4 linked regions of the Homo sapiens genome follow. The protein of the gene in region 2 purifies or fractionates together with the protein of the main gene of each other region. This does not show direct contact. Each region holds a gene or a part of one and is shown on either strand. Other genes may lie near its edges.

Region 1 (3,500 bases), on a different chromosome or scaffold from region 2:
TGTGCAAAGGTGAAGAATATGCATGGGAGATACAGGGGACACCGCTCCTGTTGTCTTAGGGACATTTGTGGGAACAATATACTGGTACGAAGAGGAGGTTTAGGATGTCCTTTGGGCAGGTGCAGGTCTCCTCCTTGCAGTCTGAGCTCCTGCCCGAGTGCCGATGCTGGCTAGAGGCAGGGCAGGCACAGTGGGAAAGAAGTAGCAGCTGTTAAACTTCTGGTGGGCTTCTGAATAGCTAGGTCAGATAACTGGGTCTGTCAATACGTTGGCTATCTTCTTTATAAAATTGTGAATCTTTGTGGCTTTTCCAAATTTTTTTTCTAAGATCATATTTGTCTGTATTTATCTAACCATTACTTATTGACGTGGTGCACTATAAGGTCTAAATTTGAATTGGCTTAATTTTTTTTTTTTTGAGATGGAGTCTCGCCCTATCGCCCGGGCTGGAGTGCAGTGGCGCAATCATGGCTCACTGCAACCTCCGCCTCCCCAGTTCAAGCAATTCTCCTGCCTCAGCCTCCCGAGTAGCTGAGATTACAGGCATGCACCACCATGCCCAGGTAGTTTTTGTTTGTTAGTAGAGACAGGGTTTCATCATGTTGGCCAGGCTGGTCTCAAACTCCTGACCTCAAGTGATCCACCCAGAATTGGCTTAATTTTTACAGTACTTGGTAAGACAGGGTCTCGCTCTGTCATCCAGGCTAGAGTGCAGTGGCGTGATCATAGCTCACTATAACCTCAAACTCCTGGGCTCGAGTGATACTCGCAAGTAGCTGGGACCACAGGCATGCACTACCCACACCTTGGCTAATTTTTGTATTTTTTGTAGAGATGGGGTCTTGCTACATTGCCCAGATTGGTCTCAAATACCTGGGCTCAAGCGAACTTCCTGCCTTCGCCTGCCAAAGTATTGGGATTACAGGCATGAGCCACCATACCCAGTCCAGAATTCCTTTTATTTTATTATTTTTATTTTTTGAGACGAAGTCTCCCTCTGTCACCCAGGCTGGGGTGCAGTGGCATGATCTCGGCTCACTGCAACCTCTGCCTCCCGGGTTCAAGCGATTCTCCTGCCTCAGCCTCCCGAATAGCTGGATTACAAGTGCCCACCACCACACCTGGCTAATTTTTGTATTTTTACTAGAGATGAGGTTTTGCCACGTTGGCCAGGCTGGTCTTGAACTCCTGACCTCAGGTGATCCACACGCCTCAGCCTCCCAAAGTGCTGGGATTATAGGCATGAGCCACCGTGCCCAGCCCAGAATTCCTTTTATAACCTGACGACCCATTATATTGACCCCATAAATGTGAATAGTCCATTATGATAAACTTCAGTACAGGAAATCCACTGTGTGGCCAATTTAAATAATGTGAATATTGAATGATCAGTCATGAATTCAAGACGCAACCTTTCATAATGAAAGCTCCAGGCTGGGTGTAGTGGAGCACACCTGTAGTCCCAGCTTAGGCTGAGGCAAGATGATCTCTTGAGCCAGGAGTTCAAGGTCACGCTCGGCAACAGAACAAGACCCTGTCTTATAAAAAAAAAATAATAATGAAAATCCTTCACCTTTCTTGTACATGAAACCCTCCGAAAAACATAAGGTGAGTCTTACATTCTCACTTCTAAGGTGCTTCCATCAGGTTTGGGAAACAATTTCTTTTTTTTTTTCTTTTTTGAGATGGAGTTTCGCTCTTGTTGCCCAGGCTGGAGTGCGGTGGTGGGACCTTGGCTCACTGCAACCTCCACCAACCAGGTTCAAGCAATTCTCCTGCTACAGGTGCCCACCACCACACCCAGCTAATGTTTTGTATTTTTAGTAGAGATGGGGTTTCACCATGTTGGCCAGGCTGGTTTTGAACTCCTGGCCTCAGGTGATCCGCCCACCTTGGCCTCCCAAAGTGCTGGGATTACAGGCGTGAGCCAACACGCCCAGCCAAGTTTGGGAAACAACTTCTGTTTGTGTGTATACACATTTACTGGAAAAGTACAAGGGCACCATTACAGATGTGCATATCTGCAATTGAATAACGATGTGGCTCATACAGTGCAGAGAGCGCACACCCACACTTGCCTGGAGAAGAGGAGCTGCTGCTTTTCTTCCTTCCCATTATTGCTAATTTTTGCCTGCATCTCAGTTCAGAAGAGCCATGAACTTTACTGCACATGTGTGCTAGTTCTAGGGAACCCCCTGGGCTGCTGCTGTCCTTCCAGAGCCTTCCTGGTACTTCCCTTGAAGTTCTTTGGGCAGCAGTGAGGAGGCCAGGCCAGATTTTTGCCACCTTGGACATCATGCATGTTGTGAAGGTGGTTTCCCCGAGCTGGAGCCAGTCCCGGAGGCTGGCACTAGCTTTCTAGCGAAGCAGAATCTTCCCAGGCATTGGTCACCCGGGCATCCAAGAATGTGTTGTAGATGATGAGATAACTGCCCTGCCCTTCGCCAGAGACACTGCTTCTGACCCTGCCTACAGCGCCTTCTCCAGTTTTTCCAGGGATGAGGCCCATGTCATCCAGCCTCACACTTTCTCTGTTCCTAGAGGCCCTGCCTGGTATTCCTGCTGAGCTAAGCTGTCGCTTCCCATGGGTAACATTTTCTCAGAGGATTTCCAACATAGTTGTTTACCGCTGGAGGAGATGGGCAGCTGTTAGCTAGGTTTGAATAGAAAGCAGAGCCTGCTCCTGTGTGCATGGGCACTGTGCAATGCTAGTGGGAAGACTGCAGCATGTGAATAATTTTACAGTTGGCACTGATGGTGTTTATACTTACTGGAGTTTTATTGCTGGCTGCAATCTCATCATTTTGGTTACAACAGTGACCTAATTTTATATCTGTGTTGTAACTTTAGGAATCCTAAGTAGAACTTTTTGTGTAGTACCTACCACTTTACTTTGGGAGTTAAGAGTATAAGTTTTGGAGTTGGACCTGGGTTTTTGTTTGTTTGTTTGTTTGTTTGTTTGTTTTTGAGACAGAGTCTCGCTCTGTCACCCAGGCTGGAGTGCAGTGGTGCAATCTTGGCTCACTGCAACCTCCACCTGCCAGGTTCAAGAAATTCTCCTGTCTCAGTTTCCCTAGTATCTGGGACTACGGGTGCATGCCACCAAGCCCAGCTAATTTTTTGTATTTTTAGTAGAGACAGGGTTTCACCATATTGGTCAGGCTGGTCTCGAACTCTTGAGCTCAGGTGATCTGTCCGCCTTGGCCTGCCAAAGTGCTGGGATTAGAGGCGTGAGCCACCGCACCTGGCCTGGGCCTGGGTTTGATTTCCAGCCCTGCTATTTGCTGGCTGTGACACTGGGCAAGTTTCTTGACATCTAAGCCCTGGTTTTCTCATTAGTACATGGAGATAGCCCTAGTACCCATTTCCTAGGGTGCTAGTGGGAATTAAATGATCTAATGCTAGTCAAATACATCAATATAAAAATATATATGGGTCACATTGTCTAGCATATGCCAAAGGGTTTGGTAAAAAGAATGTTCTGGGTCGGGCACAGTGGC
Region 2 (3,500 bases):
TATAATTTCCATTAATAGAGTAAATAATCTTTTTATGTAGAAATATCTTTATTTTGTACTTATATGTACAAACGCCTACAATTTGACTTGTAGGAGCTATAGAAAAGCAAAGCATCTAATTAGAATGAGAAAATAGTGTCTAATCTCTTGAATCATCCTACTAGTAGCATTTAACTTAATATATAATTACAAGACTAATTTAGGCTGGGTACAGTGGCTCATGCCTGTAATCCTAGCCCTTTGGGAGGCTGAGACAAGAGGATTGCTTGAGGCCAGGAGTTTGAGACAAGCCTGGGCAACATAGCGAGACCCCTCTAGAAAAAAAATTGCAAAAAACTTAGCTAGGCGTGGTGGCACGAGCCTGTATTCCTAGCTACTAGGGAGTCTGAGGCAGGAGGACTGCTTGAGCCCAGGAGTCCAAGGCTGCTGTGAACTATGATTGCAGCACTGTACTATAGCCAGGGTGACAGAGTGAGACCCTATCTCCCCCAAAAAATTTTATTATTAAAAAAAGATCAACGAAGTATGCACACCTGCTATGTACCATTACTACAATGAGTAAATATTGACCTGTTCATAAAATCATCTAGTGGCTGGCCTAGAGGAATTAGTACCCTCTGCAGATGGTATTCAATTGAGGCAGCTAAGCTTGCCACTGTAAGAAAGTATGAGAAGATTAAGATCTTTTACTAAATGAGCACCAAAAAACTTTAAGGTACTTAAAAAAATTTGGTCTTGAATTCAGTTTTTAGTTGGCTATCTTATAAAATCTTGACTAAAGTTTAGACAAAAAAAAATAATAATAATTTTCCAAAGACAAACATCAAGTGAAATATCCCTATAACAATATGAAATAACGTACTTTAAAAACAACTTGGTTTTCGAATTTTTCAATTAATACTAAAGGCTTCTAACTTAAGTTTTAAAATAAAATTCTGTCATCAATTGTTCATTAAAAGAACACATGCATAACACAAACTTAGCAGCTTGGAAGAAAGAAAAAATAAAAGAACACAAGCCACAAATAAGCTGTAGTTCATTCAGATAAAAATAAATGATTTCATAAAATTTTTGGGAAAAAAATTTTAGTTAGCAGTTTGTCAACAATAAAAATCCTGAATGTTGTTATGTTCTCCAATAGGATTAATAAAAACACAATATTTCAGTGTTTAATGACTACAGTCAAGTAGAAGAAACAAAAGTAAAAAGGTAACTTTTCTTCTAGATTGTAAGGTCATTAGCAAAAATCTACAGAACTCTAGGAAAAATGAAAAAGGCAATCTTTTAAAAATGAAGTTTCACCAGAAACTTAAGAAGCAAGGGCAAGGCTTAAAAAAGAACCAAAAACCAGAAAATAAAATGTGCCAGCGGCATCGATCCTACGTAACTCAATACAGAAGAAAACATTATGAGAGTGATATAATACTTTCAATCAGATCAAAATACAAGTTCTTTCCAAAGGTAAAAGTAAAAAGCAGAAACAAGTTCAAAGAAATTACAAAATAAATTATAAAAATTCTAATATTTTATAACTTTTTATCCAGGTGATTTGAACACACTGTACCTTCTCACCTTACTCTAGGAAACTCTGGTTTTATTACACCAAAAAGTGTGTAACATTTGTCTAAGACAGTTGAGAGGGCTGACCAACACTGAACAAGGTAAAGGAAGGTTCTTTTTGTTTTTTTATGGAAAAAAATTTTTTTTTTAATTTTACTTTAAGTTTTAGGGTACATGTGCACAATCTAAGGGGTTATCACTCCTTACAGCTCTCAGAGGTATTGCTTGTTAAATTTCCCTCCTAGATTCAGGATTCCCCATGAATCACAAAGAAAGCAATTTTGTGAAAACAATCCAATTACATGCAGAAAACATGTGTGCACTGACACATGTGCACACACACACATGAACAAAACTGGTCGACCTGCTAACTCCCCATTGGCATGGCTTTGAAATCATATATGGCAAGAGGTAGATGTGGAGCTTTCTGGTCATTCTCCTGGGAAACTGTAGAGCACAGTCATGAATTGCTTAACAACAGGAAGCATTCTGAGAAATGCATTGTTATAGCCAATTTCATTGTTGTGCTAACATCATAGAATGTGCTTACACAAACCTAGTCAGTATAGCTAACTACATACCTAGGCTACAAAGTAGAGCCTGTTTACTCCTAAGCTACAAACCTGTACAGCATATGACTGTACTCAGTACTGGAAGCAACTGTAACACAATGCTATCTGTCTATTCTAAATATATCTAAACATAGAAAAGGTACAGTGAAAACACTGTATAAAAGATAAAAAATGGTAAACTTTATAGGGTACTTATCATAGGACATTACTATACACTACTATAGACTTATAAACACAGTATATGCTTAGGCTACACTAAATTTATCAATTTATTTTTCTGCAATAATAAATTAACTTGGCCAGTCCCAGTGGCTCACACCTGTAATCCTAGCTATTTGGGAGAGTGAAGTGGAAAGATTGCTTGAGTCCAGGAGTTGGAGGCTGCAGTGAGCTATCATCATGCCAGTGCACTCCAGCTTATTTATTTTTCATTTTTGAGACAGGGTCTCACTCTGTTGCTCAGGCTGGAGTGCAGTGGCATGATCATGGCTCACTGCTGCCTCAAACTCTTGGGCTCAAATGATTTTTCCACCTCAGCCTCCTGAGTAGCTGAGACTACCTACAAGGCATGTGGAAACAAACCTGGCTATTAAAAAAATTTTTTTTGGCTAGGTGTGGTAGCTCATGCCCGTAATCCTAGCACTTTGGGAGCCCAAGGTGGGCAGATCGCTTGAGGTCAGGAGTTTGAGACCAGCCTGACCAACATGCTGAAACCCCATCTCTACCAAAAATACAAAAATTAGCCAGGCGTGGTGGCAAGTAATCTCAGCTACTCAGGAGGCTGAGGAGGAGAATCGCTTGAACTTGGGAGGCAGAGGTCGCCGTGAGCCAAGATCATGCCACTGCACTCCAGCCTGGGTGACAGAGCAAGAGTCCACCTCAAAAGAAAAAATAAATTTTTTTTTGTAGAGATGGTGTCTCACTATGTTGCCCAGGCTGGTCTCACATTCCTCCTGCCTTGGCCTCCCAATGTGGTGGGATTGTAGGTGTGAGCCACTGTGTCCAACCCACACTCCAGCTAGGTGATAGAGTGACACCCTGTCTCTTAAAATAGATAAAAATAATATACAGAAGACATAAAAGCAGAGGTTAATGATTAAAAAAAAGAGCTAGGTAAGTTATCCCCTCTTTTTTACATATAAATTCAGAAACTCTTTTAATGCTGTTTACTAATGACATTATAGCCACTGTGTCCAGCCTGTATTCCAGCTAGGTGACAGAGTGAGACCCTGTCTCTTAAAATAGATAAAAATAATATACAGAAGACATAAAAGCAGAGGTTAATGAGTTAAAAAAAAGAGCTAGGTAAGTTATCCCCTCTTTTTTACATATAAATTCAGAAAATCTTTTAATGCTGTTTACTAATGA
Region 3 (3,500 bases), on a different chromosome or scaffold from region 2:
GCTTCCTCAAGTAGGACAACTTTCAAGCACATTCTGTTTAGTCTTCCGGAGCCCAATACCCACAGCTGTAACCTGCTCATAAACGTACCTCTAAGGCTTCCTTCCCTTCTGTGTCCCACTTCTTCTGTCCCCTACTGTAGCTTTGTGAGATTCGCTCCTGAATAAACTACTTTTTCTCTAATCTTTGTCTTGGGGTCTCCTTCTGGGAAGGTGCAACCTAAGACAGCATACTGTTCTGTTTCTGTTAACAAAATATCTTAGTAGCCTAGCGCTCTAGATCTCTTGTAACTGTGGCATTAGCATTAACTTCCTAGAACCATGGTATCAGCATTGTAGAAGCTTATTGTAAATTTTGTGTAAATAAATTTTACTTTGTTTCTAGATGGAAACAGCCATTTGTATTTTAGCTCTGCCAGTGCAAACCTATAAAATAAGAGCACACATCACAAAGGGTGATAATTTATGGTAAGATTCAAAATACAGCCCAGTGTACAGACCCACATTTAAACCTTTTTAAGCACAGATTGAGCACACTTTTGGGGAAAGCTTATTTCATTTACATATCTTTTAAATTTTGGAGTGAGAATTATTTGGAAAAGTCGTTAAGATATTTAGCCTTTCAGGCTAGTCTATAGGCAAAAACATCGTTCTGAGAAGGCAACAATTTCTGAGGATTTATGTTGATGACAATCATGTTGAAATTTGTGTTAGTTAATTGAACCATTTTCATATTAGCAGATGAGACCTAGAAAAGGTCTTAGAACACATAAGTTTTGAGCTTAATTTCTTTCTTGAAACGGTGTATCTCAACTCTGTCACCTAGGCTGGAGTGCAGTGGTGCTTTCATAGCTCACTGCAACCTCAAACTCCTCAACTAAATGATCCTCCCACCTCATCCTCCCAAGCACCTAGTGCTACAAGCACATACCACTGTACCTGGCCAACTTTTTTTATTTTTTTGTAGAGTCGGGGTCTCACTATATTGCCCAGGCTGGGTTAATTTCTAAAAATTATAATAACATTAGTGTATTAGGTAATGAAATTAATATTTTTTAGAATTTTTCTTTTTTTTTTTTTTTTTTTTTGAGACAGAGTCTCGCTCTGTTGCCCAGGATGGAGTGCAGTGGCAGGATCTCGGCTCACTGCAAGCTCCACCTCCCGGGTTCATGCCATTCTCCTGCCTCAGCCTCCTGAGTAGCTGGTACCACAGGCGCCCGCCACCATACCTGGCTAATTTTTTGTATTTTTAGTAGAGACAGGGTTTCACTGTGTTAGCCAGGCTGGTCTCGAACTCCTGACCTTGTGATCCGCCTCCCTCAGCTTCCCAAAATGCTGGGATTACAGGCGTGAGCCACTGCGCCTGGCCCTAGAATTTTTCATTGAGATCAAAAACAGTGAGGCTTATTGACCTTACCCTATATTCCTTTCCATGTCCTAATTAAAAAACATAACAGAAGTTCAAACTAATTGTATAGTCTTTATTCTCGAACAAAAAGAATGTGCTCTGCATACCTCCTCTCTTTAGACAAGTTCTGAGAAATACAGAAGTTCTTGTTTCTTCTATGGCCAGATCTGTTGTTGTTTTTTTAAATATCTCCCATCCTGTTTGTAATAATTCCCCCCTGCCCCCTTTTTGTTTTGTTTTGTTTTTTGAGATGGAGTCTTGCTCTGTCGCCAGGCTGGAGTGCAGTGACACGACCTTGGCTCATTGCAACGTCCGCCTCCTGGGTTCAAGCGATTCTCCTGCCTCAGTCTCCCAAGTAGCTGGGCGTACAGGCGCATGCCACCACGCCCAGCTAATTTTTTGTATTTTTAGCAGACACCGGGTTTCACTGTGTTAGCCAGGATGATCTTGATCTCCTGACCTCGTGATGCGCCTACCTTGGCCTCCCAAAGTGCTGGGATTACAGGCGTGAGCCACTGCACCCGGCTCATTCCCCTTTTGAATGTTCTTTTCAGTCCCTGAACCTCTAGTTTTTTTAATGAAAAAACAAACAAAACTGATATTTGATTGTGACCTACTTGTATTTTAAATATTCTTATCTATTGGGATTTTAACCTTTATATGTCATCATCATTTAGCCCAGTCTTTTTTGCCCACATCTTTGCTGTTCTGATTTTACATGTAAGTATTAGTGGTTCTTATTATCACCCTTCTTTTCCATTGGATTCTCATCTTGTCTCCAGTGGATTCCAGTCTCTCTCTGTCACCCAGGCTGGAGTGCAGTGGTGCAATCTCAGTTCACTGCAGCCTCTGCCTCCTGGCTTCAAGTGATTCTCCTGTCTCAGCCTCCCAAGTAGCTGGGATTACAGGCACCTGCCACCATGCCTGCCTAATTTTTTTTGTATTTTTAGTAGAGACAGGGTTTCACCATGTTGGTCAGGCTGGTCTCGAACTCCTGACCTCAAGTGATCTGCCCACCTCGGCCTCCCAAAGTGCTGGGATTAAATGTGTGAGCCACCATGCCTGTTCTCAGTAGATTCTTATATTGTCTTTTCTTCTTTAACCTCTTAGAAAGCCAAAAGGTAAAATTTCAGGGTTTAGAGAGGGTATGGAAAGTCTAGCTTCTCATGCCCATCTGGATAGAGCCAGCTGTTTGTCCTCATTCAAGAAGATACTTGCCGGGCACGGTGGCTCACGCCTGTAATCCCAGCACTTTGGGAAGCCAAAGCAGGGGGATCATGAGGTCAAGAGATCGAGACCAGCCTGGGCAACACAGTGAAACCCCATCTCTGTTAAAAATACAAAAATTAGCTGGCCATGGTGGCACGCACCTGTAGTCCCAGCTACGTGGGAGGCTGAGGCAGGAGAATTGCTTGAACCCAGGAGGCAGAGGTTGCAGTGAGCCGACATCAGCCACTGTGCTCCAGCTTGGGCGACAGAGCGTGACACTGTCTCAAAAAAAAAAAAAAAAAAAGATACTTATTTTTGTCCTTTAAACAAGGATAGGTAGGGGGTTCTTGTTATCCAGGAAAGTCTTTTTGTTGCAAATAGCTTTCTGCCTAGATGAAGCTTGACTGTTAGTTATGCCCTTCTAATGATATCCACAAAGAGTAAGCCCCTGCTGAGACACTATTTCTCCCCAGATCAAGGAATTTCTAACTTTTTGACAAAACATAGCATTGGGAGGTATTACATATGTTGGATAGCTCTGGAATTTGACCTAATTCAAATCCTAGCTCCTCCTCTTACTAGGTGTGTGAACATGGATAAGTTATTGTTTAATAACTGCCTCAAGGCAAACTTCAGTTTCCTCAGCTGTAAAATAGGGTTAGTCGTAGTCCTCATCTCATAAGAGTTTTTGTAAAGATTAAATGTGGTGGCCTAGCGCAGTGGCTCATGACTGTAATCCCAGTACTTTTGGGAGACCGAGGTGGGTGGATCACAAGGTCAGGAGTTCGAGACCAGCCTGGCCAACATGGTGAAACCTCGTCTCTACTAAAAATACAAAAGTTAGCCGGGCGTGGTTGCGGGTGCCTGTAATCCCAGCTACTTGGGA
Region 4 (3,500 bases), on a different chromosome or scaffold from region 2:
CAACAAGGGCTAGACAGGAAATGTAAGTGAGTAAAATGGGGCAGGTAAAGACTACAGTGATTTGAAGATGTGTGTTCAATCTAAGGAGAAGGTTGATACTCTTGTCTAGTAAACTGGCTGCCTATGGGAGTATATGCCAATTGTTACGGAGTCATCTGATTTAAGAGAAGCTAAAATCTGGATTTATGTGAAATCTCCCAATTATTAAACATTATAAACTAATTAAAAAATAACATACAGTCAGGTGTGGTGGCTCACGCCTTTAATTCCAGCCCTTTGAGGGGTGGAGGTGGGAGGACTACTTGAGGCCAGGAATTTAAGGCCAGCTGGGGCAACATAGTGAGACCCCCACCTCTACAAAAAAGAAACTTAAAAATTAGCTGGGCATGGTGGTGCATGCCTGTAGTCGTAGCTACTTGGTAGGCTGAAGTGGGAAGATCTCGAAAGCCCAGAAGATAAAGGTTACAGTGAGCTACGATCTTGTCACTGCACTCCAGCCTAGCAGACAGAGCAAGACCCTATCTCTATGAAAAACTTAAAAATATATATATATATACCATGTGAGCCAAATAAAATACCTCTATGGGCTGGACTTGCCATAAGAGGCCTCAGTTTACAAACTCTGCTACAGGCAAAACTCAGACTACATTATCGTTAGCAAACATAAATGTAAATGCTACAAACCTTGACAAGTATAAATGGTAGATCAAGATTAGAGGTTCAAGTATATTATGTAAAGTATATGATGCAAAGTTTACCAACGGAAGAACTAAAATTAAGTATATATGACTAGCAGAGTATAGTGCAGTGCAAGAAATAAACAATAAATTTCATAATTTTATAGAGATAAAGTAACTGTTAATAAGCGACAGGTCACAAGTTAAAAATATATTTTAGTGCTCATTATTCTGAGATATAGAAATAAGTGCCAAAACAAATAAAAACTGGACAGTGGGATAAGGAGTATAAGTGAGACTTTACCTTTTCATGCTGCTTTGTACTGTTTGAATTTCATTACAATGTCATATATTTCCACAATCATGTTTTAAGATTTAGCATTTTTATCATTATGCACATATAATTGCATAATTTAAAAATTTTTCAAGTTTAATTTCAAGGAAAGATAGTTTGCCAGTTATGACTTTAATGCCATGAGCGAAAAAAAAGCATCAAGACTAAACCGTGTTTAATGTAAGTATCTAATTTCACAACTCCTAACATAACATGAACTCATGAACTCAAAAGCATCGACTTAGAAGACTACAAAAATTGTGCTTTAAAATTAATAAAGAGGCACCTGACTTTTGGGCTTCTGTAGATAAGAAAGGAGAAGTAAAAAAGAATCTTAGAAATCATAGGTTTATGAGTACATGCACCAAAGAATACAAAAAACACTGGTCTTCATTCTTATGTTAGCCTCCAAAGGAGTAATAGTAGCTAATATTTACTGAACATTTCCTATGTGCTAACTACCAAGCTAACGATGATACTAGCAACTCGGTGAGGTAAACACTACTACTATCCAAATATCACAGATAAAACTGAACTTTAAAGAAGTTAGGTCATTTTCCCAGGACCACATGCAAGTAAGTATCAAAGCAAAGATCCAAGGCCAGATCTGACATGAAATATGTGCTTTTAACAACTATAACCACCCTGCCTTTCCTACTATTGCAAGATAAAGGGATAAGCTCCAAGTTAAACACCAGAAATTTCTCCTGTGGTCTACTACCGGTAGGTCTGAACTTCCTTACTAATTCTAGTACCCTGTCCCATGCTTTGATAAGAGGAGACATGTCAAATTAACATCCTTTATAATTTGGTCCAAATTTCACTTTATCTTGCAGATATTATTTGAAAAATTCCTTGATACAGGACTGTGAACATTCCCTAATTTCAGTATAAATGAAGTTTCCTTTTCTGTTCTTTTAATGTTATTCCTTTTTTTATGGTTCCGAGGATTAGGAAAGTAACAACGTATACTTTCTCTGTCATGGTTTCTGTACTCCAGATAGACTGGTAGCCAACGCAATTGGAGGCAGAGAAACCCATTAGAGGCCTCTGCAATACTGCAGGTGTTCAGAGCTTCGGTATGTCTAAGTAAAAGTTATTTTAAAAAAAGAGAATTAATAAAAGTTGTTGGTTCAAAGTAATTAAGAGTGAGAGATGACTGCCAGGATGTGAAATACAGGAGAGGAAGAAAGTAATCAAGAATATAAGTTTGGAGCATGCCATTTACAATTCTGTATACCTTCCTCCCACATGACAGGTACTTGAAAATTTGCTGAACGGATGACTTACTGAATTAAAGATTTGCCAGTGTGAACATGCATAGGTCCTATAAATTAATAAGAGACATGGAAAACTAATGATATGACCTTAGAAGCCCAGAATCTGAAAGAGAATACCTAAGACCAGCAAGTCTTTAAAATAAAAACAAGAAACAAGACTATTACTCAAAGTATACTCTTCAGGAAGCTGATCTTGACTGACCTCACATGACTGATCATTATGACACTAACTAGGGTGAGGAGAGCTGATAGGTCTCTTTTGAAACTCTTTAAGGCTAGCTTGAACATGTTTGAGTATCATTTCACTGATAAACTATTTTAATATATCTTTTAATATTTTATTTAAATATCTATATAATATTTAATATATAATTTTAAAATTCTGAATTAATTAAAAGCTTAGCATTTGTAAGAACAGCACAAAGAACTCCTTCCTTTATATCCTTCACTCAGATTTACCAATTGTTAACATTTTGTTCTATTTGCTTTATCACTCTCTTCTCTTTTCCCTAAACTTTTTAAAAGTCACAGGCACACCATTTTACTCCTAAACACTTCAGGATATGACTTCCTAAGAGCAAAGATATTTACTTACATATCACAGAACAATTTTAAAAATCAGGAAATTTAATACTGAAAATACACAATTATCTAATTTGTATATTAGATAACAGACCTCGAATGTTGCCAATTCTCCCAATAACATCCTTTTTAGCAACTTTTTTCTGGTCTAGGATCTAATCTAAGATCATACTACACATTTTGTTTGCATGACTCTTTAATCTATTAATCTGGAACAGATAGTTTCTCAGCCTTTGTCTTTTATGACACTAACACTTTTGTAAAGTAGAAGTCAGCTGTTTCACAGAATGTCTCTCAATTGGGGTATGCCTGATATTTTATCCTGCTCAGTGCATCACACCAGGAGTACAGCGTTTCACTAAGTCCCATTACTAGCAATACTAAACTTGATCACTTGGGTAATGGGATGTTTCTTCACTGTAAAGTTATTTCTTACTTTGTGATTAATAAATAATGTATGAGGAGATACTTTTAGATTATGTAAATACCCTATTCCTCATAAAACATTCACTCACTAGTTTTAGCTAGTGATGACTCTTGCCTGAATCAATTATGGTGATGTGTGCAAAATGATTTGTATAACTCTTTCATTCTCGCAAATTTATTAACTGACATTCTATGGTATGC

The links. Proteins that work in one complex are often made in the same cells at the same time.
Region 1: the proteins of NEK1 (region 2) and CPT1A purify together in Homo sapiens (affinity purification with mass spectrometry, with the first as the bait; one large-scale study listed by BioGRID). This does not show direct contact.
Region 3: the proteins of NEK1 (region 2) and CAPZA1 purify together in Homo sapiens (affinity purification with mass spectrometry, with the first as the bait; one large-scale study listed by BioGRID). This does not show direct contact.
Region 4: the proteins of NEK1 (region 2) and EXOG purify together in Homo sapiens (affinity purification with mass spectrometry, with the first as the bait; one large-scale study listed by BioGRID). This does not show direct contact.

What each region holds. Positions count from the first base shown.
Region 1 is NC_000011.10:68,831,917-68,835,416, reverse strand, and holds part of CPT1A (carnitine O-palmitoyltransferase 1, liver isoform), read left to right. Parts: intron 1-3,500. UniProt on the Homo sapiens protein: Catalyzes the transfer of the acyl group of long-chain fatty acid-CoA conjugates onto carnitine, an essential step for the mitochondrial uptake of long-chain fatty acids and their subsequent beta-oxidation in the mitochondrion.
Region 2 is NC_000004.12:169,403,084-169,406,583, forward strand, and holds part of NEK1 (serine/threonine-protein kinase Nek1), read right to left. Parts: intron 1-3,500. UniProt on the Homo sapiens protein: Phosphorylates serines and threonines, but also appears to possess tyrosine kinase activity. Involved in DNA damage checkpoint control and for proper DNA damage repair.
Region 3 is NC_000001.11:112,661,332-112,664,831, forward strand, and holds part of CAPZA1 (F-actin-capping protein subunit alpha-1), read left to right. Parts: intron 1-3,500. UniProt on the Homo sapiens protein: F-actin-capping proteins bind in a Ca(2+)-independent manner to the fast growing ends of actin filaments (barbed end) thereby blocking the exchange of subunits at these ends.
Region 4 is NC_000003.12:38,509,840-38,513,339, reverse strand, and holds part of EXOG (nuclease EXOG, mitochondrial isoform 1 precursor), read right to left. Parts: intron 1-3,500. UniProt on the Homo sapiens protein: Endo/exonuclease with nicking activity towards supercoiled DNA, a preference for single-stranded DNA and 5'-3' exonuclease activity.